Linked DNA regions of Homo sapiens: regions 1, 2, 3, 5, 6 and 7 are each linked to region 4. Evidence: fine-mapped expression QTL. A gene starts in region 4. Each other region holds a variant in brackets. All regions are shown on one strand. Distances are between the middles of the regions. Region 1 overlaps MAEA (macrophage erythroblast attacher, E3 ubiquitin ligase). Region 2 has its middle 15 kb from the start of NKX1-1. Region 3 overlaps CTBP1 (C-terminal binding protein 1). Region 4 holds the start of MAEA (macrophage erythroblast attacher, E3 ubiquitin ligase). Region 5 overlaps UVSSA (UV stimulated scaffold protein A). Region 6 overlaps MAEA (macrophage erythroblast attacher, E3 ubiquitin ligase). Region 7 holds the start of UVSSA (UV stimulated scaffold protein A).

Region 1 (4,063 bases), 49 kb before region 4:
CGTGGGTCCCAGGAACCAGTGTCTGATTCACCCAGCTGCAAGCCGGGGCCTCAAGACGCTGGGGCCATCACGCCTCAGGGCAGCGCCCGAGAGGAGGACTGCGGTCCGGGCAGGAGTGGCCTCCAGCCGGCTTCTCAACTCCCGGTGGCCGTGGTGCCAGAAGCTACGCATATGCCCGCCATGCTGCCCGGGCCCCGGGGAGGAGCAGAACACAACCTCGGTGTTAGAAACGCACGGCAGCCTCGGCTCACACGGAAATGAGAAATAGAAAACCATTTTATTCGCATGGTTTACATTTACAGTTTATTAGCTAGTCAACATCAACATGCAAAAATAAGCACTAACTACAAACCTCTACGATACGGTTCTCTGTCAGCTACGGTGGTTCATTTGTTTTGAAAAGTCATCAGTACTTCTTTCAACTGAACGATTAATTTCTGTAATGGATAGCAATTAGACTCTACAGTTATGGAACCATCCGGCAAGGCCTCTGCAGAAATTTGGTCCCGTGGATTTCCACGTTATACATTCTCGAAGCAGGAAGTAAGGCGGCACACAGAGGGTGTGATATCGAAACGACGCAGCTACGAACACAGCCCCGCGATGTGATATCGAAACTATGCACGTACGAACACAGTCCCGCGGACACGACCCGCGAGGCAGGCGGGCGTCCTCGAAGCCAGCCCCCGACGGTGGCGGCGCCAGGCGTTTTGGCAGCAGCTCTCGAATGAAGCCATAAGTGTCCCTCGTGGCGCGGCATCGCGGGTCACTGCAGGTCAGTCCGGTGCCGCTGCCACCTTCCCCGGCCAGGCCAGGGCCAACAGGAAGTGGTGAAGGACCAGCCCGTTCTCCAAGTCTCATCGTTCACAGAAGGAAAGAAACTGAAAACACAGGGAAATCACGGACTCCTATATTTTAAACGTTCTTAAGTTTCCCTCGGTGTTTAGGTCAGTCTTTAAAGAAGAGTTTCCTTCGCAAGTTGAAAGTACTTTTCAGAAGCATCAAATGGTTGACGTGTTACAAAATCCTACCAATCCAAATGTTTTCAAGTACAAACTTATGAAACCTTATTTTCTCTCTTCCTAAGAGTATTTATCGTTGCTCACGGATCTTTGGTCGCAAGAAACAGAAACGCCGCGGCAGGCTGGAGCGTGGGACAGGAGGAAGGCGTGGCCTCCCCGCCCACTGCAGCCCGTCCCCGAGGCGTGCGCTTCACGACGTGGGGCCTACATGATGTACACCTTCTCGGCTTGTGAGAAGTGGAAGACTTCTTTGGTTCTCGGGCACACGACTTTATCATCTTGACGGATAGAAAGCAGAGACTGAAAAATAAAACCGGGAATGCATTAAGGCAAGCGACTACAACGTACACACGGATTTCCATGGAAAATCCCCACAATGAACCACCAGGGAATGACTCATCCTCTCAGGCAAAGTTCCTTCCCGAAGGCACACCTGCCAAAGAAATCCCGGGGCCACCTCGCCTGTCCTTCCCACCCCTTCATCCATTTCGAACGAAGCTAAGGCAGGGTGGGGCGAGAGGACAGCCCTGTCCCAATGGCGACGTGTGCCAGCCTGGCCCCGCTGCCCTGCCCGCCCCACACAGCCCTGTCC[C/T]GATGGCGACGCGTGCCAGCCTGGCCCCCCGCCCTGCCCGTCCCACACAGCCCTGTCCCGATGGCGATGCGTGCCAGCCTGGCCCCCCTGCCCTGCCCGTCCCACACAGCCCTGTCCCGATGGCGATGCGTGCCAGCCTGGCCCCCCTGCCCTGCCCCCCTCACATTGTAGCCGTAGACGTAGCCGTTGGGCAGCATCATGGGCGGATTGTTCTCGTTCATCACGTCGCCAGAAATCTTGCAGACCAGGCGGGAGTTGGCACAGTGGGCCATGGGCAGGGGCTGCGCCAGCTTGTTCAGGGAGCGGCTGCACACAGGGCAGTCAGGGCTCTTGGAGCTGCCGTCCTCCTTGTAGCACTGTCTGAGCATCGGGTCAAGGAAGGGTTGGGGGCCACTCAGGGCAGCCGGGGTGAGCCCAGCCCCCTGTGGCCACTCTGCCCTGGGCTGCGTGCCCTTCTGGCTATGTGGGCGCCATGCTGACTACACGGGGCTGTCTTTCGAGGCACAGGAAGTGCTGCACTCGACAGCTAAACAGCCCCACTGAGGCCTCGGTGGAGACAAGAAGCCTGCGCCTTCTCACCCCGGCCTCCAGCACCAGGACCACAGGCACAGAGTGGCTCCGTCGCCCGCCGCCCTCTCCCCGGCCACGCAACCTCTCCAGGCAGGACAAGAGCCACCCAGCAGGGACGTTCTGCTGGCACCTAGGAACAGGCAGTGGGCAAGCACGCCAGCCCTCTCGCCCAGAGTTCCACAAAGAGGGGACAAGGGAGGGGGCCTGAGTCTCATTCATACCCCGGCACAGCCAGGTACCAGCAGCAATCGCGAAACACTCACTGCCCTCTGGGCCTGAGGCAGGTCACATGAAAGACATTCATAGGCGGGGACAGAGTCAGTTGCAGGAGGACAGTCAGTCACAGGTGGGGACAGAGTCAGTCACAGGTGGGGACAGAGTCAGTCACAGGAGAGGGCAGAGTCAGTCACAGGCAGGGGTAGAGTCAGTAAGAGGCTGAGTCACAGGCAGGACGGAGTCAGTCACAGGTGAGACAGTCACAGGGCAGGGGCAGAGTCAGTCACAGGCGAGGACAGAGTCACAGGCGGGATGGACTCAGTTGCAGGAAGGGACAGACTCAGTCGCAGGCAGGGGCAGAGTCTGTCACAGGCAGGAAGAAGTCAGTTGCAGGTGGGACAGAGTCAGTCACAGGAAGGAATCAGTCACAAACGGGACAGACTCAGTCACAGGCAGGGCCACAGTGAGTCGCAGGCAGGGACCAAGTCCGTTGCAGGCGGGAGCCGAGTGAGTCACAGGCAGGAACTCAGTGAGTCGCAGGTGGGACAGAGTCACAGGCAGGATGGAGTCAGTCACAGGCAGGGACAGAGTCACAGGCAGACAGAGTCGGTCACAGGTGGGACAGAGTCAGTCACAGGCGGGACAGAGTCAGTCACAGGCAAGGTTCTTGGTAATCACACGGGAAAACTATTCTGAATGGTAATCTGCCGGCTGCCAGAACACATCAAAATCGGGCTTTTAGATCAATGCCCATGGCGGCCTCTGAGATGATGAGAGAGGAAGCGCGCCACTTCCCAGAGTGAAGGCTGCACGACGCATCCGAGGCCCCTCAACACGGCCCCACCCCGACCATCCAGACACCACGCAAGTGCAGCACACGGGAGCTCGGGGCTGTCTGTGGTGGGAGGACAAGAGTGGCAAGGTGCAGGGTCAGCGTGTTAAAATATGACCAAAGATGCCAACCCCAGGCCAAACCGCACTGCGCACGGGAGGTAGGATACGGTGTCTTGATGGCTGAGAGGCCAGCCTGCAGGGTGAGGGTGAACACAGAATTGTTTCCCAGCTGGTGTAGTCGGTAGTTGTCGTACCGGAACTGCTGGATCAGCATCCGCCACCGTGCAGGGTCCAGAAGGTCCTGGAAGACAGAGAGCAGAGGGTCCTGGGGATGCTCCCAGGGAAGCTCCTGGGACAGCTTAAAAACGTGGACCATGGTGAAGCAGGTGCCATCGGCCCACAGCCATCCCCCAGTGACCCACACACTTTGCACTAAGGGTCAGCACAAAGCATAACTCCCTCAAGTGTTGACTGATACACACAGTGGGATGAGTGCTGACTTAACTATGATTTCAACATGCTGCGGGATGAGTGCTGACTTAACTCTGATTTCAACATGCTACAGGGTCAGTGCTGACTTAACTCTCTGATTTCAACACACTGCGAGGCCAGTATGAACTTAACTCTGATTTCAACATGCTGCGGGACAAGTGCTGACTTAACTCTGATTTCAACACACTGTGGGATGAGTGCTGACTTAACTCTGATTTTAACATGCTGTGGGGTGAGTGCTGACTTAACTCCGATTTCAACATGCTGTGGGGTGAGTGCTGACTTAACTCTGATTTCAACACACTGTCGGGGGAGTGCTGACTTCTCTGATTTCAAA
Region 2 (4,063 bases), 130 kb before region 4:
CTGGAATGGCTACAATATCTGATAAAGTCAACTTCAGAACGAGAAAAATTATTAGGGGTAAACAGACATTACATAATGACAAAAGGGTCAATTCACCAAGAAGACATAAAAACCTAAACGTGTATTGCCCTCATAACAGACCTTTAACTGAAAGGAAAAGTAACAGACTCACAACTCTAGCTGGGGCCTCAACAGTCCTCTCAGTATCAACAGAACAATTAGGTAGATAAGGAGGGAGGATACAGGAGAACAATACCATCAGCCAACAATTTCTAAATGACATTTACAGCATCTGCCATCCAACAGCAGCAGGACACACGTTCTTGTCATGTACACATGGAACTCTCCAGAGAAACCATATCCTGGCTTATAAAACAAAACTAACAGATTTAGAAGAATTAAAATTATGTAAAGCATGTTCTTTGACAATAGTGGGTTTAAACTGGAAATGAATGACCTAAAGATACCTTTAAAACCCCAGAGGCTGAGAAATTAACAATTACACTTGTAAGTAATCCATGGATCAAAGAAGTTCTCCTAGAAGAAATTAGAAAGCATTCTGGACTAAATACAAATGAAAATTTAAAATATCAAAATTTTTGGTATGCAGTTAGAGCAGCTCTTAGAGGGAAATTTTTAGCAATAAATGCTTATATTAGAACATCTCATTGACAACCTAAGCTTCTAATTTAGGTAACTAGACAAACAAGAGCCAAAGAAAACCAAAGCAATCAGAGGAAAGAATAGTAAAGATAAAACCGACGTCAGTGGAATTAAAAACAGATAACCAGGTGCAGTGGCTCATGCCTGTAATCCCAGCACTTTGGGAGGCTGAGGTGGGCGGATCACTTGAGGTCAGGAGTTTGAGATTAGCCTGGCCAACATGCAGAAACCCCGTCTCTATTAAAAATACAAAAGTTAGCCAGGTGTGGTGACACATGCCTGTAATCCCAGCTACTTGGGGGTCTGAGGCAGAAGAATCACTTGAACCTGGGAGACAGAGGCAGTGAGCTGAGATGGCGCCACTACACTCCAGCCTGGGTGACAGAGCGAGACTCCATCTCAAAAAACATAAGTAAATAAAATGTTAAGAAAAATAGAAACAAAAATATTAGATAAAATCAATGGAATCAGAAGCTGGTTCTTTGGAAAAGTCAATAAAAATAGGTAAAACTGATAAAGAAAGAGAAGATACAAGTGACCCATTACAGGCATAACAGAGGGGCTGTCACTGCAGAGCCCACAGGCATTGTAAGGATAACAAAGGAGCATTCCATGCACGGATTCAGCACCTCAGATGACTGGACCAATTGGAAATCCACAAACTACCAAGACTCACTCAAGAAGAACTAATAACCTGAACAGCCCTATCTCCACTAAAGCAGTTGAATCCATAGTTAATAACCTCCCAAAAAAGAAAACTCCAGGTCCAGATAAATTCACTGGTGAATCTTACGAAATATTTAAACATAAAAATAACTCCAATTCTATACAAAACTTAATCAAAAAATAGAGGTGGAAGTGACACTTTCTATTTTATTTTATTTTTTTCTCTTTTTTTTGAGTTGGAGTCTTGCTCTGTCGCCCAGGCTGGAGTGCAGTGGCGCGATCTCGGCTCACTGCAAGCTCCACCTCCCAGGTTCAGGCCATTCTCCTGCCTCAGCCTCCCGACTAGCTGGGACTACAGGCGCCCGCCATCATGCCCGGCTAATTTTCTGTATTTTTAGTAGAGACGGGGTTTCACCATGTTAGCCAGGATGGTTTCGATCTCCTGGCCTCGTGATCCACTCGCCTCAGCCTCCCAAAGTGCTGGGATTACAGGCATGTGCC[A/G]CCATGCCCGGCTGGAAGTGACACTTTCAACTCATTTCGCAGGGCCAGAATTCCCCTAATACCAACACCAAAGTCATCACAAGAAAAGAAACTACAGGACAAAACCTCTCAGGCACATAGATGTGGAAATCTTCAACAAAACACTAGCGATCAAATCCAGAAACATGGAAAGCATGAGCACATGATGGCCAAGTGGGGTTTACCCTGAGAACACAAGGCTGTTCAACAGAGAACGCCAGCCATCACAATCCACCATGTCAACAGACGCAACGAGAGAAGCCATATGAGCCTATGGATACGGAAAAAAAATGTGATAAAATGCAACATCTGTTAATGATTTTACAAATTTCTCAGAAAATTAAGAATAGGAAGGAACTTCCTTAACCTGGAGCTATTATAAAATGTTTTTGAATTTTTAGGATTTAATCACTGATCGTGGGTATATAGAAATTAGATTGACCTTTTTCAGGCTTTTTCTCTGACCTTGCTGACTTATGAATTCTGGGTGCTTTTTCCTTGGGATTTTCTACGTAGATAATCATGTCGTCTGTATGCAGGGCTAGTTTTATTTTTTCTGTTTCAATATGTTTACATTTTATTTCTTTTTCTTGCCTGAAATATTTACAGGTGAAGCAACTTAATGTCTGAAGGTATATTTTAAGATTCCAGAATAAAGGTGTGGCTTTGGATACACAAAACCATATTGACACCAAAATGTTGACAGATGTTGCATCTGAGTGACAGGTCCCAGGAAGCTGATCTTACTCTGCGCTGTATTTTTGTGTGTGTTTGAAATATGTTATAGTAGAGGGTACTTTTTTTTTTTTTTTTGAGATGGAGTCTCCCTCTGTCGCCCAGGCTGGAGTGCAGTGGCGCGATCTCAGCTCACTGCAACCTCTGCCTCCCAGGCTCAAGCAATTCTCCTGCCTCAGACTCCCGAGTAGCTGGGATTACAGGCACCTGCCACCACGCCCGGCTAATTTTGTATTTTTAGTAGAGACGGGGTTTCGCCAGGTTGGCCAGGCTGGCCTCGAACTCCCAACCTCAGGTGCTCCGCCTGCCTCGGCCTCCCAAATTACAGGCATGAGCCACCATGCCCAACCCAAGGTTACTTTTTAACCTATTGCCACCCACAAAACAACCTCAATAGCTGACCAAATGGAAAAAAGACAGAGCTCACAAAGAAGACAAAGTTCACAAAAAAAAAGAAGCTACGTGGCTAATATTCATGAGGGAAAATGTTCCTTCTCACCAGTGTCCACAGAAATGGCAACCGCCACAGAAGGAGGCGGGGATGCCACCCTGTGAGATGGTGCCCATGCCAGTGACGCCGGAGACGTTACCCAGCCTTTAGGAATTCCCTCCCTTTAACCCAACCCATCACTTCTGGTGTCTCCTAGAGGTGAACTCAAGTCTAAACAAGAATCTACACAGCAGTGGTTCCAGGCACAGAAAGCCAGACTGCCTAGGCACACGGATGGACGGCTCACGCCCTCCGTGTGACAGGGTTCTATGGGACCGGTAAGAACCTGTGTTACGAAGTCTGCTATGACAACGAGAAATGCCTAGGATACAAGGGGGGGCCAGCATCCAAGTGCCCAAGGCTATAGGTGCAGCGCCCACATTTATGGTTTTTTTTTTTTTTTTTGAGACAGAGTCTCGCTCTGTCACCCAGGCTGGAGTGCAGTGGCAAGATCTCGGCTCACTGCAACCTCCACCTTCTGGGTTCAAGCAATTCTCCTGCCTCAGCCTCCCGAGTACCTGGGACTACAGGTACTCGCCACCACACCCGGCTAATTTTGTATTTTTTTTTTTTTAGTAGAGATGGGGTTTCACCATATTGGTCAGGCTAGTCTCGAACTCCTGATCTCAAGTGATCTGCCCGCCTCGGCCTCCCAAAGTGCTGGGATTACAGGCGTAAGCCACAGCACCCGGCCAACATTTATGTTTTTAGGAAGCAGAAAACGAGATGAGAGGAAAGCAGAAAACGGCAAGGTGTGAGCTGGGCCGTCGCTGTGCTGTGGGTTATGGGAGATGCTGCTTCTCCTCTGTGCTTTTTCACGAGCACGTGTTACTTTGATCACTAGAAAAGGCAACGGTTGTCTACAATCACTGTGAGGGCAGGATGTCCTCACAGACACCTGGCAGGGTTCGGCCAGGTCAGCAGGAAGCCCAGGTGGCATCCTCGTCACAGCTGGAAAGAGATACCGTCACGACCAGCCCCCCTCGCTGG
Region 3 (4,063 bases), 57 kb after region 4:
CCTGCACGTCATGCTCCCTAGCAGCTTAACTCACCATAGCCCAAACCAGAAGGACGCCCCCCACCGGCTGTCCTTCAGTGGGTGAGTGGCCAGGCAAATGCTGGCCACCTCCCTCGGTGTCCTCCTCAGCAACAGGCATGAACGCTGGGTCCCTGCCACACCCTGGGTGATCTCGGCAGCATGATGGCGAGTGAAGAAGCTGGTTTCAAGGGGTGCACACTGTATGATCTCTTCATCCCCAGGTGATAGGATTAGCGTGACGGAAACAGTGGCCCGGGGTGTAGGTGGGGGGGCCGCCGGCAGGCCGGTGTCTGGAATCGGCACATGGGCACGTTGGCACGTCACGTGGGCATGTCCACACGCATGCAAGGGGCTGTGGGTGAACTGCCCGTGGTGCACACCTGAGGGAGTTGTGTGGCACCAGCTCGGTTTGGACAGTGCCCTTTGTTAGGTACGGTTTTCTCATTGGGAAGCTGGATTTGTATTAAAGATGCACACGTAAGAATAAAAAAGAGGCTCGTAGAAAACTTTTGGTGTCGTAAACAATACTCAAACAGTTTTGCCAACAAATTGGAAAGCTAAGGCAAAACAGATGTTTTTCTAAAATTGCAGTAATCCCAAACTGCCTTGACAGGTTCATATAAAATGCAGATCAGTGGTTGGGGTGGGGCCGGCGTGGGCCCTGGCATGAGACAGACTTCCTGCTCCCCACCCAGGCTGCACAGCCCAGGGCAGAGAAAGGACAACATAAATACACAGAAAACTGCCCCAGGGGATGCAGCTGGATTCTTGGAAGAGACGAGAGTGTTGGGAACCGTCCTGGCATCCTGGAGGGGCCTGAAGCAGCCCCTAACCAGAAGCAGAGCCGGCGCCACAGAAAGGAGCCCCCAAGAACTAGGAGAGCTTGAAATTAAAAACATGAGTGAAAATCTCATAAAAACAGGAAGCTCAAAGACACAGGGACATTGCAGAAGCCAGAGAGGTGAAGAGAAGCCGTGACCTCCCGGGGCTGTGTGTGGAGTCTGCAGGGGCTGCCTGGATGCCGAGTCCGCGTTTCGCAGTGTGTGGTCCTGTGGGAGGACTTGGCTGCCCACGCTTTCTTGCCACTAGGGGTGGCCAAAGGATTGAGCTCCAGAACAGAGGGGAGCAGGGCCTCTCCCTGCCGTCCCCTCCTCGTCCCTGCTGGCTGGAACCCGGGGTAGCCACCTTGGACTGTGAGGGGAGCCACGTGCTGGGAACCGTGGAGCAACAAGGCAGGAGGCAGGGACCCTCGTGGCTGTGGAGAGGGCAGCGGGGCCGCAGGCTCCCTGTCTCCAGGCTTTGGCGTGGGAGGAAACTGAACACCTGCTTTGTGTGCCACTGTTAGTCAGGAATTCTGCCTCCTGGGGCAGAAACTTCCCGCATAGCTGGTTGGAGGTCGCCGCCGTCTGAGTGCCGTGGAGGGAGAGAACGTGATACCGTCAGTGCGGTCACAGGAGGAGCGGGAAGAATGTCGGGGCCTGGGAGGCGCCCCAGTGTTCAGGTTCAGGACTGGGATTTTACTGATACCACGGGTGGGGGATGTCACCCACCGGGACACAAGACTCAGCCCAGCCCCACTCGCCTGCTTTGGAATTTCCACAGGAGAAGGGTTTTCAGCCCAGCACTGCACATCTGATCAAACTGCTGAGCAAGAAAAAGGAAGCCCTGGAGCCTGGAGGCTGCGTCCGGTGTGGGCTGCGGGGCCTGGAGCGGCAGGGCGGCTCCGGGAGGGCACAGGACGCAGTGGCCTGCGAGGACCTGCAGCCAGCTGGACAGTTGCACTCCTGCAAGACAAGCATCTCCACGCCTTGGGGGTGGGGAGGCCACCAGAAAGCTCCGCCAGACAGAGGTGCTGGGGCTGTGCAGGAAACGAAGTGATTAGAAATCCCGGAAAAACACACAAGCAGGCGTTGTCATGGTGACTGGGAAAAACACACAAGCTGGCGTTGTCATGGTAATGGAGTGTAGGACAGGCCTGGAGCCCCTCGGTCTCTTGCTGGCGGCTGGCACAGAGACGGGCTGCCGTGGGCTCTGACCTTAATACCGGGTCACAGTCGCTTCTAGGACCAAGAGGACAGAGACCCCATCACCGTATGCAGGGGCCTGTTTCCAGGCAGACTGCCCAGTGCCCAGCTGAGCCTCGGGTGCAGTGCGACCCCCGCAGGGCATGTCCAGACCCCAGGACCCCCTCTCAGGTCTAGAAGATCCAGTTGGGCAGTGTTGGTACCACCAAGAGTAGACAGGACAGAGGATCAGAGACAATCCCACCCAGCAGGACCCAAGGACTCAGGCAGTGGCTTTTCAGGTGTGTGGGCCGAGGACTGGGGAGTCGGTGAATTCTGGGGCCCCTGGGGTGGCCGTTCAGGAACTGCAGCAGCTCCCCCCACCACAGATGCTCGCTGCCTACTGAAGCGGCCACGTGTTTGAATGAAGAGCAGTTAGAGGAACGCTTGCAAGAGAATGTGTTTATTACCTGAGGTTATGACAATACAGAACATACA[A/G]TGTTTTCTGTGGAAAATGTGATACTACAGAGGAAAAGGTCACTTTAATTAAATGGCAATTAGAAGTAACAGCATTGCAAGGTGGGGTGCAGCAGCTCACGCTTATAATCCCAGCACTTTAGGAGGCTGAGGCGGGTGGATCACTTGAGGTCAGGAGTTCAAGACCAGCCTGGGCAACATGGTGAAACCTCGTCTCTACTAAAAATATAGAAATTAGCCACGCGTGGTGGTGCGCGCCTGTAGTCCAAGATACTCAGGAGGCTGAGGCAGGAGAACCTCTTGACCCTAAGAGGCAGAGGTTGCAGTGAGCCAAGATCGTGTCACTGCACTCCAGCCTGGGCAACAGAGCAAGACTCTGTCTCAAAAAGGAAAAAAAGAAAGAATGACATAGCAAAATAAATTTAAAAAATAAAAACGGGAGAGGTAGGGGTTGGGTATTTTCAATTTGTGTGCCAGCCTAAGGGTGAATGTCTGATAACACTCAGAGCTGGTGCAGGGGCTGTGCCTGTCATCCCAGCGTATCCAGAGGCCAAGGCCAGAGGATCGCTTCAGCCTAGGAGGTCAAGGCTGCAGCGAGTCATGATTACACCACTGCAGTCCAGCGAGGTCCTGTCTGTAAAATAAGTAAATGAAAAAGTTTATATATTCAAAGACTCCTCCCAATCAGTAGAAACAGAAAAATCCCGACAGAAAATGGATGAGGGCGGTGGCGTTTGGTACAGACAGAGCGGTGTATGAGAACCGGGGTGCGCCTCCTGGGTTCTCACAGGTGCAGCAGGCACCGCCGGTAACCCCTGGCCTGGCCTGCGCTGAGCCCTGCACCAGCCGTGCTGAGGGAGCCTGGGCCTGGCCCTTCATGTGGGATAGAAACGGCCGTGCCGGTCTCGATGGTGCTTTGGCAGTTTCTCTGGAAATCTGAAACCTGCGGTCTTCAGCCCAGCCCCACCCTGGGCCTGCATGTGGCTGCGTGTCGTAGAGAAACATCTGCCCTGATGGTGACCTGATGTGAGCAGCAGTTTCACAGAGTAAGCCACCCCTGTGCACGAGGTCTGGAAAGGTAAGTGCGACGTCGAGTCCTGAGCACAGAAGCAGGTGGCAGAACTGCATGGCAGGAGGTGGGCTTGGCGGGCCCCTTCCTGACCCCCAAGAGCCAGCTGCCACCAGGAGCGTCCTGGGGTCTGTTTCCAGCCCGGTGGCAGCCGAGCTTCCTGGGCACCCAGCTTTCCCCAGCCTGCTCTGAGCACTGGAGTTGAGGGCACTGAGCAGAGTGGGGCTGAGCCCCTGGCGGTGGAGGGGACACATCAGTGGGTGTTGGCTTGAGGTGGTTTCTGGGAGGCTGCTGGGCCCCGATCTAAAGGGACACACCTGGCTGCACCCACCTCCTGCAGACTTTCTCCGTGGGAGACCAATGCAACAGGCGGGGTGGAGCAGCCACGTGGCAGCCACGAGGGGGAAAGGAAGGTAGACCCTGAGGCTGAGCCGCTGTGGCACCCTGGCCTGTGGACCTGTGGATGACGTGGCCGCCACGTGGTAAAGCGCAC
Region 4 (4,063 bases):
TATAATATTTCTTTACCTGTATGACTATCTGCATGACTATTTTAATCAGAAGCTATGCAATCACTCTGGAATACAAATTACATTCACGATTACAAAACAGCAGAAGACCTGAAGAAGAATCCTTTCCGGAGACCTTCCATCTCCCTTCCTAGTTCCTTCAATACACAATGAAAGGATTTCTGGAAACTTTTCCTATCTAGTGTTTCCCACATTCACCAGCCAGTACCAGAAGTGACAAACCACCACGGTTCTGATCTTCAAACCTTCTTGTGTGTTAGCTGAAATGACAGGCCTGGAGGTGCACTGCGTGAGACAAAGTGGTCAGTGGTTAGGACTCCCTACTAATATCACCACAATGTCCTTGTATAGACTTCTCTCAGCTGCAGGGTCTCCATCTCTAAACCAACAGAGATCCACCAATGTCACTGAGTATTAAAAACCAACCACCTACATCTTGGAGGGATCTAGCAAGAGGCTAGACCTTTGGTAACGTCAGCAACATTGCCCTCCCTTCCTTGATCAAAAGAAGTGCTGGACACACAAGCACCATGAAACCCCACTGCGAAACCATTAGTGTGGCGGGCGCGTGGCTCACACCTGTCAGCCCAGCGCTTTGGGAGGTCAAAAGGCAGGAGGATCGCTTAAGTCCTGGAATCCAAAACCACCCTAGGCAACAGTGAAACCCCGTTTCTTTTTAAAAATATGAAATAAACCGCTAGTTAATAAAGAGGAGGAGAAGCTTGCTTCTGCTTTCCTATGAAGACCAGCTACAGCAGGGTACAGCCTGACTTCAGCAGCGCTAACTGTAGCAGGGACCTTTTAATGAATGCTAGGCACTGTTTGAAACAATACGTGGTCACTCATTTCACCCTGAGGTGACACAGGCGCTACCACTGCTTAAACCTGACAAGAATAAACAGTCACCAACCGGGCCCTGATGTCTCCCAGTAAGGACGAATACAGAGAAGCCTGATTCACACCCCAGCAGGATGGCTCACAGCCTGTGCTCTTCAGCCCTTCGCTGAACTGCCCTGGGGCTGGGGGAACGCACAGCAACCTGGCCATACTGCATCCTCCACACCTGTCGCCACACCGTCCGTCCTCAGACGGACGTGAACACCAGGGCGCTCTGGGAGGAGAGAGAAACTACGCAGCTCTCCAGGAAGGCAACACAGAACCACGAAGCTCAGCCGCAGCTCTAGGAAAGCTATGACCTTGATCTTTTAAGGAATTCCTTCCCAGGTGCTTCATATCAAATCCTCTACTAACTAGGTAAAGAACAAGTATCGGCTCCTTCTACTAGGAGCACAAATTTCATTCTAAGAAGTGCGACGTGGCTAGGTGACCACCCAAGGTCACGCAACCGGCAGCCGGACGGCAAGAGCTGTATTTCAGGTTTGGTGACGCCCATCAAAAAGGTCGCTGGGTGCCATCAGGCCGTGAGGTTTCTCCCTACAGTTCCTAACTAGCGACCGGCGCAGCCGGCACCTCCCAGCCCTGGGCTCCCGGGAGGGCGGCCGGGCACTGGCTGGGCACGCCGCGCACTCCGTCTGCCTGGGCGCCAGAGACCCCACGCCCCGCAAACTCCGGCTTCCACCCCAGCCCCAAATTCGCCACCCTTAGCGCTGCCAGAGTCGTCGCTGGCTCGGCTCACGCAGCTCTTCAAGCAGAGGGGCCACAGTCGGGCGCCTGGCAGGGCCAAAGCCGCCGCCCCCGCCACACCTGCCCGGCGCGGACCGGGCGCCCCTGAGAAGCCCGCACGGCCCCGCGAGGCCGCGCCCAGCTCCCGCCGCCCTCGCCGCTGGCCCTCCCGGGGCGGCCCCTCGCGGCCCGAGGGCACTGGCTGGAGACGCCTTCGCTGCCCTCAGCCTGCGCGGCGCAGGCGCCCACCTTGAGGGTCGGGTACTCCTGGACCTTCAGGGTCATGGACAACTGAGCCGCCGACTCCTGCACCGCCATCTTGAAGCGGCCAAAACATTAGCGGGCGGGGGACGCGCGAGCGCGCTGCACGCCGGGAAATGACGCCACGCGCCGGCCGGAGCAGGATGGGGGCGGGCCGATGCCCCTGCACCAATCGTATCCGCCCAGTCGGCCGGAGGCGGAAGAAGGCGCGAACCAATCACTGCCGGGTTTCCTCTCGTTCAGCCAATCAACGATAGCCCCGGCTGGCGGTTTCCACCTTGAATTCGCTACCGGGTTCAGGCCGCAGACGCCGGAGCTGGGGATGCTCCTGGCCCGGGGCGGGCCGATGGGGTGCGGGCTGCGGCCCGGGCGGGTGGAGCTGGGGCCGAGCGGGCTGGGGGACTTGGCGTCCGTCCAGTTACTTGGGGCTCCCGCGGGGTGGTCCCCTGTGGGTCCCTCGTGCCTGCGGTACCAAGGGCAACGCCAACAAAACGCCTGGCCGCATGCGCCTGTAGCCAGCTATTTTTCTTTGGCCTTATTTTGACCGATTTACAGCTGCTGGAATCCTGATGTGGAACCTCCGACTTCCCAACGGAAGAGGAAAGGCCCAGTACCTAAAACTGATTTATGGACAGAAACTCCCGAAGCATGAGAAGCGTGTGGCCTCTCCGCCCTCTCCTTGCAGGGCGGGCAGCGCTGGCATCCAGGTCGTGCGCTGCCTTCATTTCAGCCACTTCACATTCTCAGCCTTTCAAACACCACCCGTCTCCCTCCTTTCCAAAATAAAACTGAAATTAGATTTTATTAATTAGGAAATGACGTCCCAATTAAACCACCTTGTGTTTCACATAACACATTTCTAAACAACTTTTAAAATATTTGGTGTTTAAACAAAGGAAAAACATCTAAGGTGACACAGCGATGAAGGGAGAACCTCCGCTTGGAGGCTGCTACATGTTACAGCCGCAAGACATCCGACCCGCACTGTGGAATCTTTCTCTGTCTTACTTAAACAGGAGTTGGGACTAAGGAAAGTGTTATTCCTCAAGTGTGTGGCTGCAGACTCCAGTCTTTTAGACATTTGAAGTAAGTTTTACAGTGAGGTGCACAAATCTTAACTATACAGCTTTAATGAATTTTCACCCATATTTGCACTTTTATCTAACCGTGTCCTGGTTGAGATTTAGGACATTTCCCGTGGCACAGAAAGCTCCTCTGCCCCTTCCCGGGCTATATCCCCATCATTCTAACCCTGCTCCCCGTAACAGCGTTCCTGACCTTCCTATAGAGATGGAAGCATGCACTCTGTACTCTTTGCGTCCTTTCACGGTTCGCATCGTGTCTGCCACTCTCCGGGATGGTCCCAGTAGTACACAGGAGCACTGCAGCAGTTGGATGGACTGCACTCCTCTTAGAGACTGCCTTCACTTCACCAGGGATTCAAGATTAACCCAAAGGAAAGGACACGGGTTTCATTTCCATGGTAAAATGATCCTATCCTAGTACCATCTACAGTCAGAAATACTTAGGAATTATAAGGCAGAGGTTTGCACGTTGGAGAGGTTGTTTAACCCTCTACAACCTTTGAGTCATTCATTCTAGGTTTTCTTATGTTGGAAGATAAAACTGTATTTGAATTAGTCCTTTTGTAAACCAAAAAGTGTCTGAGACAGATCTCAATCAGTTTAGAAGTTTATGTTGCCAAGGTTAAGGATCATGACCAGTGACACAGCCTCAAGAGGTCCTCAGAACACATGCCCAAGGTGGTTGGGTTACAGCTTGATTTTATACGTTTTAAGGAGATGTAGGCATCAATCAGTACATGTGAGATTTACATTGGTCCGAAAAGGCAGGACAACACAAAGCACAGCGGGGCTTCCAGCTCACAGGTGGATTCAAAGATTTTCTGATTGGCATTTGGTTGAAAGAGTGCTTATCTAAAGATCTGGAATCGAGAGAAAGGAGCATCTGGGTTAAAAGGGGTTGTGGAGACCAACGTTCTTATTACATAGATGAAGCCTCATAGGTGGCCACCATTAGAAGCAATAGATGGCAAATGTTTCATATCTAGATCTTAAAAAGCTGCTAGACTTGGCCGGGTGCTGTGGCTCACGCCTGTAATCCCAGCACTTTGGGAGGCCGAGGCGGGCGGATCACGAGG
Region 5 (4,057 bases), 98 kb before region 4:
GCTTGAGTCTGGGAGGTCAAAGCTGTAGTGAGCCATGATTGTGCTACTGTACTCCAGCCTGGGTGACAGAGCAAGACTCTGTCTCAAACAAAACAAAACCAAAGACAGAAAATTAGCTGAATGTGGTGGTGCATGCCTGTGGTCCTTCCTACTGGGGAGGCTGAGGTGGGAGGATCACTTGGGCCCATGAGTCTGAGGTTGGAGTGAGCTATGATTGCACCACTGCACTCCAGCCTGGGCAACAGAGTGAGACCTTGTCAGTTAAAAAAATTTTTTTTAATGCTATGAACCATTATATATGAACAGATTGCAACAAAGAACCTAGAAAGGGACAAACTCCTGGAAAGATGCAAACTACTGGAACTAAACAGATCTATAATAAATGAAGATACTGAATTAGGGAAAAAAATCCCACAAAGAAAAGCCCAGCCTTCACTGGTAAATTCCACCAAATGTTTAAATAATTAACAACAATCTTTCACAAACTCTTCCAAAAAATAGGAGGGGAGGGAACACTTCCCACCTCAATCTATGAGGTCAGTAGTGACGTGACTAAAGCTAAAGACATCACAAAAAGACTACAGCCCAATATCCCTCATGAATACAGATGCAAAATCCTAGCAAACCAAAGCCAGCAGCATAGAAAAAGGATTATACACCATGAACAAGTAGAATTTGCCCCATGAATGCAAGGTCGGTTCAATATATGAGAAACAATGTAATATACTGTATCACTATAATAAAGGACAAGAATCATACTATCATCTCGACAGATGGAGAAAAAGCATCTGACAAAATTCAATACTTTATGACAAAAACACTCAACAAACTAGGAGGAGAAGGTAACTTTTTCAACCTGATAGAAGCATCTACACAAAACTGCATTGTTAGCATCACATTCAATGGTGAGAGACCGAAAGCTTCCCGCTAAGATCAAGAGTAAGACGAGGATGTCTGTTCTCACCACATCTATTCAACATTGTCCTGGAGGTACTAGCCAGAGCAATTAGGTAAGAGAAATAAAAGAAATCCAGATTAGAAAGAAAGCTGTTTGCAGATGACATGATTTTGTGTATGGAAAATCTTAGGGAACATACAACTAATTAGAATGAATAAACAAGTTCAGCAAGGAATGCTGGATACAAGATCAATACACAAAAGTCAGTTGTACTTCCACATATTAGCAATGATCAGCCCCAAAGTGAAATTTGGAAAACAATTACATTTGTGATTGCTTTTGTAAATGCAATTTATAATCTTTTAATAATTTATAATTGCATTTATAGTCCTTTTGGTTATAAATCAAAAATAATAAAATATGAGTAAATTTAACAAAATAAGTGAGAAACTTATATACTGAAAACTACAAAATACTGTTGAAATAAATTTAAAAAGACCCAAATAAATGGAAAGATAATCAGAAGCTCATGACTCAGAAGATTTAATATTAAGACGGTAATACATTCCAAAGCAATCTCTAGATTTAATGTAATTCCTATCAAAAATCTCAGCTGCTTTTTTTTTTTTTTTGAAGAAACTGATGAGTGGATCCTAAAATTCATTTGGAAATGCAAGAGATGCAGAAGAGTCAAAACAGCCTTGAAGCAGAACAAAGTAAAACTTCTCACAACAAAGCAGCACTGATCAAGGCACTGTGGCACTGGCATAAGGTTAAACAGGTCAATGGAATAGAGTCAAGTGCCCAGAAATAAGCCTGTACATTTTTGGTCAACTGATTATCAATAATGGTGCGAAGATAATTCAATGGGGAAAAATAATGTTTTCAACAAATGGTGCTGGGACAACTGGATATCCACATGCAAAAGAATGTGGGCTCTTACACCACACACAAAACTTAATTCACAATGGATCAAAGATCTACACATAAGAGCTGAAATTATAAAATGCTTATTAGAAACTAGGTGTAAATCTCTGTGATCTTGGATTAGGTGATGGCTTCTGAAATGTGACAGCAAAAGCATAAGCAACAAAAGAAAAAAACAGATAAATTGCTGTACTTCATCAAAATTAACTTTTGTGCTTCAGAGGACACTATCCAGAAAGTGAAACAACAGTATGGAAGAAAGTTTTTGCAAATCAGCTGAGTGCGGTGGCTCACACCTGTAATCCCAGCACTATGGGAGGCCGAGGTGGGTGGATCACGAGGTCAAGAGATCAAGA[C/T]CATCCCAGCCAACACAGTGAAATCCCGTCTCTACTAAAAATACAAAAATTAGCTGGGCGTGGTGGTGCGCGCCTGTAGTCCCAGCTACTCAGGACGCTGACGCAGGCGAATCGCTTGAACCCAGGAGGTGGTAGTTGCAGTGAGCCGAGATCACGCCATTGCACTCCAGCCTGGCGACAGAGCAAGATTCCATTTCAAAAATAAATAAATAAATAAATAAAGTTTTTGCAAATCACATGAGGATCTAGTATCCACAGTATACATATAAACTCCTGGCCAGGAGTGGTGGCTCATGCCTGTAATCCCAACACTTTGGGAGACCGAAGCAGGAGGATCGCTTGAGGCTAGGAGTTCGAGATCACCGTGGGCAACACAGTGAGACCTCATCTCTACAAAAAATTTAAAAAATTAGCCAGGTGTTGTGGTGTGTGCCTGTAGTCCCAGCTACCTGGGAGGCTGACGTGGAAGGATGGCTTGAGCCCAGGAGTTTGAGGCTGCACTGAGCTATGATTCTGCCACTGCACTCAGCCTGGGTAAGAGCAAAAGCCCATCTCTAAAAGGAAAAACAAAAAAAACAACTGTTACAACTCAAGATAAATCATTCAATTAAAAATAGGCAAGAGGTTTGAATAGACTCCTCTCCAAAGGAGATACACAAATGGCCAGTAAGCCCACGAGAAGATGTTCGGTATCCTTCTCCAATGCTGCTGTGAACATGGGTGCACAAGCTTCCGCATGGACAGGTTTTCACCTCCTTTGTTTTATACATTGGAGGGGAACTGCATGGATAAACCTTAAAAACAACGCCAAGTGTAAGAAGCCAGGGACAAGAGGACACATGTATGAAAAGGCACATCCAGAAACAGAAAGCAGATGACTGAACGGTTCACTAGCCTTTGTGTTTGTGTTAAAAACAGCATTTGCACAAAAGTGGGTTTCCCAGAGTTCCTCTGAGTGGTCGCCTCCTGGCTGGGGAATGCACGCTCTGAAGGCTGAGCTGCACACACATTCCGTCCGTGCTGAACCCCACACCACGACAAGCACTGGTCTCACGAGGACTCGCAGAAGCCCTCTGGAACAGGGTCGCTGCCTGTGTTCACATCTCCAGGCCCGAGGGCCTCTTCTGCGAGGCCAGACCCATCACCAGACGATGCCGAACCCTGTAGCAGCAGAGCGGCCGTACCTTCAGGGCATTGCAACACACCATTTCTTTACATCAAACACAGTAATAGACAAAGCATGGTTACTGCCCAGACCCACGCCCACTCTGCTGTCCTGAGACACTGGCAGAGGGAGAAAGTGCTGATGGCCAGTGCACTGGGCCCCGCTCTCTAGTTCAGTGCGTAGTTAAACTGGTTTGAAAACTTCTCGTGCTTCTTCTGGTCCATCCGGTTCATGGCTGCCACTACCCTCCGCACAGCTGCCCTGTGGGGAAACAAGGCAAGATGTGACCTGGGAGGCTTCCGCCAGGGGCCTGGGCTCCCAGTGGCGGCATCACCAAAGTTAGGCACTGGTCCTGGGGCAACTGCTGCCCTCGGACACTGACAGACTGCCTGTGGGTGCCACCTTCAGAGACAGATGGGCGACGGGCCCCTTGGCCCTGGCCCGAGACAGACAGGCTTAGAAAGGGCCGCCCCAGGTCCCAGAAGCGGAGTCTGCGGCGGGTGGTTCTGCGCGGTGAAGGTGGCCCCAGCCCCACCTTGGCACTTCTCCCGTGGCCTCCCGCACTCCAGGATGAGGGCAGCCTCCCCCTTGGCCTCCCGGGGAGCGGCCTCGCAGGAGATGCAGCCAGGAGGCGTCAGGACAGCCCTGCCCGCTGCTGCACGCACGGCTCCACGGCCAGGGCTGGAAACCTGGAGGGCTGCAGCAGGGGGG
Region 6 (4,063 bases), 41 kb before region 4:
CTGTAGCCTCGAACTCTCAGGCTCAGGCGATCTTCCCGAGAAGCTGAGACCGCAGATGTGCAGCACCACACCTAGCTAATGTAAAAAACATCTTGTTAGAGACAGATTCTCGCTGTGTTGCCCAGGCTGGTCTCCAACTCCTGGGCTCAAGCCATCTTCCTGCCCCGGCCTCCCAAAGTGCTGGGATTATAGGCATGAGCCGCTGCACCCGGCCTGCATTTTTAAGTTGAAAAATCTGAGCTAACAGCTTTTATGTCAGAGTCTAGGTACAAAGTAATCGCCTCACTCCAAGCCGACCTGCTGGGTGGGGCTGGGATGGCGGGAGGTGCGGCTCACCAGAGGCTGGAGGAGCAGCTACCAGACACTCCTTCCTCCAGGGGACCAGGGCACCCAAGCCACACAGACAACCCACGGAAAACACCAGAACTGCAAATGGCACCTGCCCCCGAGGGCTCTCCAAAGCGATTCTGGTTTACAAGGAACCCAAACCCTGAGGATTCCCACTCTCCCCAGATGCTCGCCCCCACGGACCCCGTGGCCCCAGCGGACCAAGAACGTGTAGTCTTCTCAACTGCAGTCCTTGCTGTTTGGCAGTGACGCCCAGCACAACCTTCCGAAGAACAGCCTCCCTCAGCCCACAGGCTGGACTCCCTGCAGATCCGGCCCAGCCCTCTCAGCCCTGAGCGTGCCACACACCACATGCAGCCACGATCTTTCCTGAGCCAACTCTGCGGGATGCACACAGGCCTACTCCAGGCCAGAACCCCACTCCAGTCTAAGGCTGGGCAACCAAGAAACCAAAGCAGAACATAACAGATCCCTTTCAAGCTGACCAGCGGGCACCTGCTCACCCCCAGGGCCCCCATTCTCATGCCCCCCCCCACACACAGGGTCACTGTCCCTCTGGCTGTCCTGAGGGCCTGCACCCCCATGTCCTGACCCTCACACGGGCCCCTGTGCACCCCACGTTCTCAGCCCTCAGGGCCCCTCTGCCAAAGCGACCCCAATGCACAGAACCAGGGGCCTCAAGTCCCATGTGTGAGTCAGCCCTGTGCTGTCCAGAACAAGGCATGTACCAAGGAACACAGGGCTGAGGAGGTGCCAGGCGCTCACGGTGGCCTTGGAGAAGATGCAGTGTCTCGCAGAGACTGGAGTTAGTGTAGGAGGTGGCCCAGCAGCCCCTTGATGGATAGCACGGGGACCACGTGTTGGAAGCACCACCAGGAGAGCCCGGGGCAGCAGGGAGTGGGGGGCGTCCACGCTTGGGACCCAGCCTGGGGAGTCCACATGGCTGACGCCCCAGGGCCTGTGCAGGGCCTGGGAGTCGGGGGTGAATCCACACGGCCGACCCCGCAGGGTGCATACAGGGACTGGGAGTCGGGGGTGAGTCCACACGGCTGACCCCGCAGGGTGCGTGTGCAGGGGCTGGGGACGGCCATCCGAGATTCCAGTGCCCATGCATCCCCCTCCTTGGAGCGTGTGGGTGGGCGTGGGTCTGAGTCCAGGAGGAGCCCCACCCAACCCCCTCATTCCATCTCTGGAGACAAGTCACCCTTCGTCACACGCCAAGACGTGCACAGAACACGGCCAACGGGCATCTCACCTCCTCCCAGAGCTGCTGAAGAGAGGAAATTTAATCTCCGTGGTTGACATCTACAAGATCTCATTTGCATGACCTGGTTTACGCGTCTTATCTCACCATCAATCAAACCCCAGACAGACATCATCCGCCTAACAAGCTGCCTCACCTCGCACCCCAGGTCCCTGATCCACAAATCCTGACCCCAAGACAGAAACAGAAAACCTAACAGTGGCGGCTGACTCTTTTCAGATCGTTTGATGCCAGCATTCAGCCCCAACACACAGAGAACTGCAGCCGAGATGTGGGGCCCTCAGAGCAGGTCCGGGGAGAACAGCACGGTATGCATCCACAGGACACAGGGGAAACAAAACCGTGACTTTTAACAAACTAAATGCAGCTAACATAAGAAACACAAAAACTTCCATTTTTCTTTAAAAATATAAACACACGGGCCAGGCACGGTGGCTCACGCCTGTAATCCCAGCACTTTGGGAGGCCAAGGTGGGCGGATCACAAGGTCAGGAGTTTGAGACCAGCCTGGC[C/T]AACATGGTGAAACCCCATCTCTACTAAAAATACAAAAATTAGCCGGGCGTGGTGGTGGGCGCCTGTAATCCCAGCTACTCAGAGGCTGAGGCAGGACAATCACTTGAACCCGGGAGGCGGAGGTTGCGGTGAGCTGAGATTGTGCCAGGCAACAGAGCAAAACTCAACCTCAAAACACACACACACACACACGGAAAGAGAGAGAGAGAGAAACACCCAGAAGACAAAATTCCTAAACTGTGCCTGGCCAGGCTGAGGTGTGGGTGTGCGACAGACGGCACGGAGCTGCTCACACAAAGCCCATGAAGTACAGGCCAGGTCCCAGCCGCCTGGGGTCAGGGATTCACTTACTCATTTACTAAAAATTAAAGGCGTTAAAAGTTAATCACTAGCAGCTCATACTTTTGCATTTCGCAAAAACCCACAAATGCCCCAGGCAGGGCGGAGCTGCAGCCACCCCAGCCAACGAGGCCCCCTGCCCGGCCCAGCACGCTGGCTCCACAGACAGCAGGACTCACCTTGCCTGCCCCAGTGGACCCAGAGGCTAGGCTGCTGGCCTCAAGCCCTGTAGATGGTGCCCGACGCTCCAGCGCCATGTGGACCGTGAGTTCAGAGGTGGACGGGAAGCTCCTGCGGGCTGGGACCCTGGCAGCAGGTGAGAGGGCCCTGCCTGGAGCCCTCAGGAGACATGTGGCCAGGCTTCTCCGCCTTCCCTCTTGTCCAGCCTCAGTGAGTGATACACAACACCCTCTGGGCTCCCAGCCAAACACCCGCACTCCCTCACCCCACAAACGTCCTGCCGATGCCCCACCTGCCACCCCAGCCCAGCTCCCGTGTGCCTTGTGGGTGGCTCCAGGGCCACGCTGAGCTGAGGCCGGACTTCCCTGACCAGGCCCTGGCACCTGGAGAACCACTCCCAAGACGGCCCCAGCAGAGGATGTAGCTCACACTGCGCCTGCCCCCGAGACACTGGGGTGTTGTTTGCCATGCCTGCCCGGCTGGCTGCTGAGGCTTCGAGGCAGCACGTGTCTGCTTGCGGGAGGAAGGACACGCACTTCCTGGGACCTGCCTGCTCCCCTGCAACAGACGAGGCCGCAGAGGGCACAGCTCTGAGCTCGGCTCAGACATTATGAGGTGGAGGCCCCGCGAGTCTCTAGGGCAGATTCTACCCAGAGCAGGGGGAACAAGGCAAAGAGACCCTACACGGAGCGGGGGGAACACAGGCAAAGAGACCCTACGCGGAGCGGGGGGAACACAGGTAAACAGACCCTACACGGAGCCAGGGTAACACAGGCAAATAGACCCTATGCGGAGTGGGGGTAACAGGTCAACAGACCCTATGCGGAACCAGCTGCCACCTAGATGAAGACATCTGTGACGGAGGGACTCCGGGATGGACACGTTTTGTTTTCAGACTCCAGGGCTGACAGTGGCCGGGGCCCTCAAGGAGACGGAGGCTGACTCGGGATGGAAGCAGACTGCCGCCGGACAGAGGCCAGCGACACAGGCACCGAGGCCACACGGAGGCCAGAGCAGAGCGGGAGCCCCTCCTCTTGACAGGGGGCCCCTGGCCGTGTCCCCGCAATGCTCACACGCCACTCTCCACTGGCCCGGGTCCCGAGATCCCCGCTTTAGCCCTCTCAGGCACAGAAGGGACCTCGTTGCAGGCCTGGCTCCCTCGTGCGTGAAGACGAGGCCTGACCTGCCACCATGCGCCCAGGTCAGCATCAGGAGCCGGAGCAGGACCCCGGGCCTCTCCAGGGTCCACGCAAGGGCAGGGACTTGCCGCGGTTCTGCCGTGCGTCTTGGGGACCACCCTCAGCACCTCATCGTGAGACGCCCACTTCTCCAAATGGGCCTTCTGTGGAACACTCGGCCACCCGGCCCACTGCAGGTGGATATGGAGTCGCGGTCGGGTTTCTGTGGGCATGGACAGGT
Region 7 (4,063 bases), 57 kb before region 4:
AACACAGGATACAGAATAATCAGTGTCCTCGACTTATGCTCCACCCTCCGAGGGGAAGTTTTGCTTCCCCCATGAATCTCTGGCTGCCTGAGGGTGACGGCAGAGATCCCCTCCGGCGTTTTCCTTGGAGGAAGTGAACAGAGGTGGACATACCCTAAAGGCGATGGACCAACTCGCCCATCAGCAAGCTCTATTCTTTCCCTTCGAAAAGTCCAGCAGCAAAGAAAAAGATGCACGTTTCTCTCTGAATCACATTTGTGCACTCAAGAACTCCTACAGGATGTGCTCCAGACCACACAAATGGGAATGAAGAGAAGCACCAACCACAGAGCAGTGGGGTCCCCAACGCCACACGCCCCGACCCCAGAACATGACCACCCGTCAGAGCCGGGTACTGCAGGGCCCCGAGAAAATGTCCTGGGTGTGTCCCTCGGGTGGTTCTCTCCCAGGTGGGGGCAGGAGGGCAGGGCCCTGTGTGTGTCCTGGGCTCAGTGGGCCAGTCAGTTACTGTTACTGAACCCTAAGACATACTTGCAAATTTTCTTCAGTTCCTTCATTTTCTCAGGATTTAGTCGGGGTTCTCCTGAAGTTGTGAGCTCTTCTACCAACTTCGAAAGTTTCTGATCCATATCTAGAAATAAGTAAGGCAGAGATGCTATATCACCATCTGTATTTTATAGCTCTCGGTGTTATTAACGTGTTTACTGGGTTCCACTATAAACCGAAAGCTCCGGGAGGACCCTGAGGCTGGGGTCCATCTGTGGGTGCCTCTCTGGGAAATATGTGTGTCCAGCAAGGCCTTTACGGCGGTGATTGCAGTTTTAAAAGTGAACCTTAAACTCGGGACCTCTACAATCCCGTGTGTGGGACGCTGCATTGAGGGTCGTGCGTTAAAGGAACCAGTGGCGCTGTCCGAATCAGCTTTTCCCCAACGTGACTGTTGCTGTTTCCCTTATTCACTCAGATTCCGCAGGGCAGCCTCCAGCAAGGCTGCAGAGGCCAAGAGGAGCCAAGAAATTCTGAGACCAATGAAAAGTCGCGTCCGGAGAGCAGGGGCGGCCCTAACGGAGGCAGCCTGCCCGGATACCCAGGGCCGAGCACCGCGGCGTGCCTGGTGGGATGAGGCGAGGGCCTGCCGCACCGCCAGGGAAAGGCCGAAGGACCCGGAAGGAAGCGCCAGGCGAGGCCGGGGCGGAGGCTGGGAAGCTGCGCCCTACTCGGGGAAAGAAGGGGCCCGGCAGGGCCACGCGAGGCTTGGACCGCGGGGTCGCTCTCGCACAGCGGCTGCACCGGGCGGGCGCGCCGGCTTCGACGGTGCTCGGGGGGCTGCGGCCTGTCACTCGGCCCAGGGCCCGCCCTCCGGCCCCGCCGCCGGCGCTCTCGGGCACACGGGACACGCCCTGGCCGCAGGTCTCTGCCCGGCGCCCGCAGAGCCCCGGGGACCGAACCGGCGCGACCCCCGCCCGGCAGCGTAACCACAGCCCCACCTACCGCTGACGCGGCCGCTCGCCTCGCCCCGCCCCTTCCGGCGGGGGGACCGCCCCTCTTGTCAGGTGCCCAAGACCTCTACCGCCATTGGCTGGCCCTGGGCCGGACGCATCAGGACCTGGGGTCACCACAGCGACGACTGCACCTACCGCTCGACGCGGCCTTTCTCGCCGTTGCCCCACCCTTTCCGGTCAAGGCCCCGCCCCCTA[G/T]CACGTGCCCTGAGCTCGACAGCCAATGGCTCACCCCAGCCCAGGAGGCGCAGGCGCAAAGACGCGGCCGAGGTCTGCGCGGTGACGTAGGCGCGCTCCCGGCGAGGGCGAGGCAGGCTGCCGGGGGTGGGGAGGGGGACGCACGAGAAAAAAGAGGCGGGAGGGCGCAGAAAGTCCTTAAAGGGGCCGCATGTACGGGCGCCGGGGGCGGGGCCGGCCGGGAAACTGAGGCCGAAAGGAAGTTCCGGTCTGGGCCTCAACGCCACGCCCGCCCGCGGGCTCGCAGCCAGGTCCCTTCACCTGCAGAGGGCCGGTGAGGACCGCCCAGACGGGCGGGCGCGGGCCCCCGCCCCCGAGCTCGCCCCGCGCAGGGCGCCCTGAACCCCGCGGCGCCTCCCCGCTCCGGCCTCGGGAAGGGAATCCCTGGGCGGGCTTGGGGGTCTTCGGGGCCCACCTCGGCGCCAGACGCACAGCAGGTACCCCTGGGCCCGGGCTGGCCCTGGGCGGAATGAGAAGCAGAGGCGCCGTCCGTCCTGCCGCCGAAGTCCGCAGCCTCGAACGCAGGGGAGTGCGAGGTCGGCTGCGGACGGACGGACCTGGAGACCGCGCTTGGGAAACCGTGGCTTCGGAGGAGCGTGGTGTGGACCCCACTCGCGGGGCGCCCGGCACAGGCCACGCAGAGCAGACGCCCGACTGGGCTCCCGGGGCTGGGTGCAGGGCGGGGGCCGCCGGCGGCGGGCCGGGGTTTCTTTTTCGGGGGGATGGGCGTGCCCTTGCATTACGGTGGTGGTAGCTCACAACTCTGTTAATCGTGTTTTTACAGGGTGGGTTTCAGGATGTGTGAGTTATATCTCAGTAAAGCAATTATTTTAAAAAGGAAAAGAAGAGGGACTCCCTGCGCCGCCCCTCTCTGCAGCACCAGCTTCTGTCCCTGGGCGTCAGTGGCTCCCAGCTCCTAGCTTGCAGCCAGCCCCGAGCCGCTCCTCCGCCTCACCCCTTCCTCACCCTGCCTCTTGCTTCACTGAGCAAGCTGCAGCCAGACCCTCCCTCAGCGCCCCTTGCCCTGTGCATCCAATCCCCGGCCTGTGGCTTCCTCCAAGGCACCCATCCAGCAGTTTCCCTCTGTCTTCTACAGCGTGGTTTTTTTTGTTGTTACTAGTTCTCATTAGTATAAAAGGGTGCCGTTTCTCCCATACTAACAAAACCCTCTCTTTATCCAACTTTTCTTACCAATTGCTAAGTCCAGTCTCCTTTACACTGCCCCGGGGTGTCCTCTCAGCCCTCAGGCTCAACAGCACAGCCAAGCTGCCCGTCCACTGCCCTCTGTATCCGCTGATGGCCCTGCAGCCTTTTTTTTTTTTTTTTTTTTTTTTTTTTTTGAGACAAAGTCTCGCTTTGTCACCCAGGCTGGAGTGCAGTGGCACGATCGCGGTTCACTGCAGCCTCCGCCTCCCGGGTTCAAACGATTCTCCTGCCTCAGCCTCCCGAGTAGCTGGGATGACAGTCACCCGCCACCACGCCCAGCTCATTTTTGAATTTTTAGTAGAGACGGGGTTTCACCATGTTGGTCAGGCTGGTCTCGAACTCCTGACTTCAGGTGATCCGCCCGCCTCGGCCTCCCAAAGTGCTGGGATTACAGGCGTGAGCCACCGTGCCTGGGCCACCGTGCCTGGGCCTGCCCTGCATCCTTCTGTTCGCTTGGACCAATTATCTGACTCACTTGGGCTTCTCTCTTCCTCTCACTCCATGCCCATTTGGTTTGCAAATCCTGACAGCCCTACCTTCAGAACACATCCAGATCTGAGCACGTCCCACTGCCTCATTGCCACTGCCAATTCCTGGCCACCCCTGCAGCAGGTCACTGCCGTCACCTTGTCTTTCCCTTGCACCCTGGTACCCCTAGACCATCATGCAGCAACCAGAGGGACCTTTGAAAGTCTAAGGTCGGATCACAGGATTCCTCTACACAAAATCCTCCGACGGCTCCCATCCCAGGGCAAGGCAAAACCTGTCGTGGCCTGTGTTTGCTGCCCCCTGCATCCCACCGGTTGACTTCTCCAGCCTGCTCTTGCTGCCACACGGCCTCTGGGGAGCGGATCCCTCTGCCGGGAAGCTTCTGCCAGTATCCACAGAGTTCCTTGCCTCCTTCCAGCCACTGCTCATGTCTCACCCTGAGCAAATACTTCTGCACCCGCTCACCTCCCTGGCTCAACACCCCCCATCCGTTTTCTAAACCTGCCGTGCTTGTTCCCAGGGCACTTCTGGCCCTTGTGTCACACAGACTTACTGTCTTACTAGGTGATTCGCTTTTTTCTCTTCACTCCTAAAACATACAGTCCCTGAAAATAGGGATCTTTGTTTCATGA

Evidence for each region. PIP is the estimated chance that this variant, and not a neighbour inherited with it, causes the effect.
Region 1: its variant is fine-mapped to the expression of MAEA in whole blood (INTERVAL, PIP above 0.99).
Region 2: its variant is fine-mapped to the expression of MAEA in whole blood (TOPMed, PIP above 0.99).
Region 3: its variant is fine-mapped to the expression of MAEA in whole blood (INTERVAL, PIP above 0.99).
Region 5: its variant is fine-mapped to the expression of MAEA in whole blood (GTEx, PIP 0.97).
Region 6: its variant is fine-mapped to the expression of MAEA in whole blood (TOPMed, PIP above 0.99). The same link has a PIP of 0.9 or more in breast and tibial nerve.
Region 7: its variant is fine-mapped to the expression of MAEA in whole blood (TOPMed, PIP 0.99).

The regions. Positions count from the first base shown.
Region 1 is chr4:1,336,333-1,340,395 of GRCh38, reverse strand. MAEA (macrophage erythroblast attacher, E3 ubiquitin ligase) reads right to left here. Exons shown (of 9, transcript NM_001017405.3): 7 at 3,402-3,535; 8 at 1,779-1,974; 9 at 259-1,322. The coding sequence ends at 1,227. Among named protein-coding and RNA genes, the nearest start is that of UVSSA, 8.8 kb to the left of the region's middle. RefSeq lists an enhancer at 696-1,214. The variant C/T (reference allele first, on the strand shown) is at 1,615.
Region 2 is chr4:1,419,093-1,423,155 of GRCh38, reverse strand. No RefSeq gene overlaps it. Among named protein-coding and RNA genes, the nearest start is that of NKX1-1, 15 kb to the right of the region's middle. The variant A/G (reference allele first, on the strand shown) is at 1,831.
Region 3 is chr4:1,231,151-1,235,213 of GRCh38, reverse strand. All of the region lies in intron 3 of CTBP1 (C-terminal binding protein 1), which reads left to right. Among named protein-coding and RNA genes, the nearest start is that of CTBP1, 16 kb to the left of the region's middle. RefSeq lists an enhancer at 732-1,287. The variant A/G (reference allele first, on the strand shown) is at 2,523.
Region 4 is chr4:1,287,810-1,291,872 of GRCh38, reverse strand. It overlaps MAEA (macrophage erythroblast attacher, E3 ubiquitin ligase), which reads right to left and starts at 1,982. Exons shown (of 9, transcript NM_001017405.3): 1 at 1,891-1,982. The coding sequence starts at 1,959. It overlaps LOC105374347 (a long non-coding RNA gene), which reads left to right and starts at 2,302. Exons shown (of 3, transcript XR_925046.3): 1 at 2,302-2,988. LOC105374346 (a long non-coding RNA gene) reads right to left here. Exons shown (of 2, transcript XR_925043.3): 2 at 3,579-3,847. RefSeq lists silencers at 401-583, 1,672-1,951, 2,052-2,461.
Region 5 is chr4:1,385,418-1,389,474 of GRCh38, reverse strand. UVSSA (UV stimulated scaffold protein A) reads right to left here. Exons shown (of 14, transcript NM_020894.4): 14 at 1,426-3,607. The coding sequence ends at 3,514. Among named protein-coding and RNA genes, the nearest start is that of NKX1-1, 19 kb to the left of the region's middle. The variant C/T (reference allele first, on the strand shown) is at 2,182.
Region 6 is chr4:1,328,584-1,332,646 of GRCh38, reverse strand. The region is part of intron 5 of MAEA (macrophage erythroblast attacher, E3 ubiquitin ligase); the gene reads right to left. Among named protein-coding and RNA genes, the nearest start is that of UVSSA, 17 kb to the left of the region's middle. The variant C/T (reference allele first, on the strand shown) is at 2,125.
Region 7 is chr4:1,344,658-1,348,720 of GRCh38, reverse strand. It overlaps UVSSA (UV stimulated scaffold protein A), which reads right to left and starts at 1,513. Exons shown (of 14, transcript NM_020894.4): 1 at 961-1,513; 2 at 532-631. The coding sequence starts at 629. RefSeq lists enhancers at 825-904, 2,750-3,272, 3,273-3,796 and silencers at 1,135-1,574, 1,815-2,144, 2,365-2,454. The variant G/T (reference allele first, on the strand shown) is at 1,698.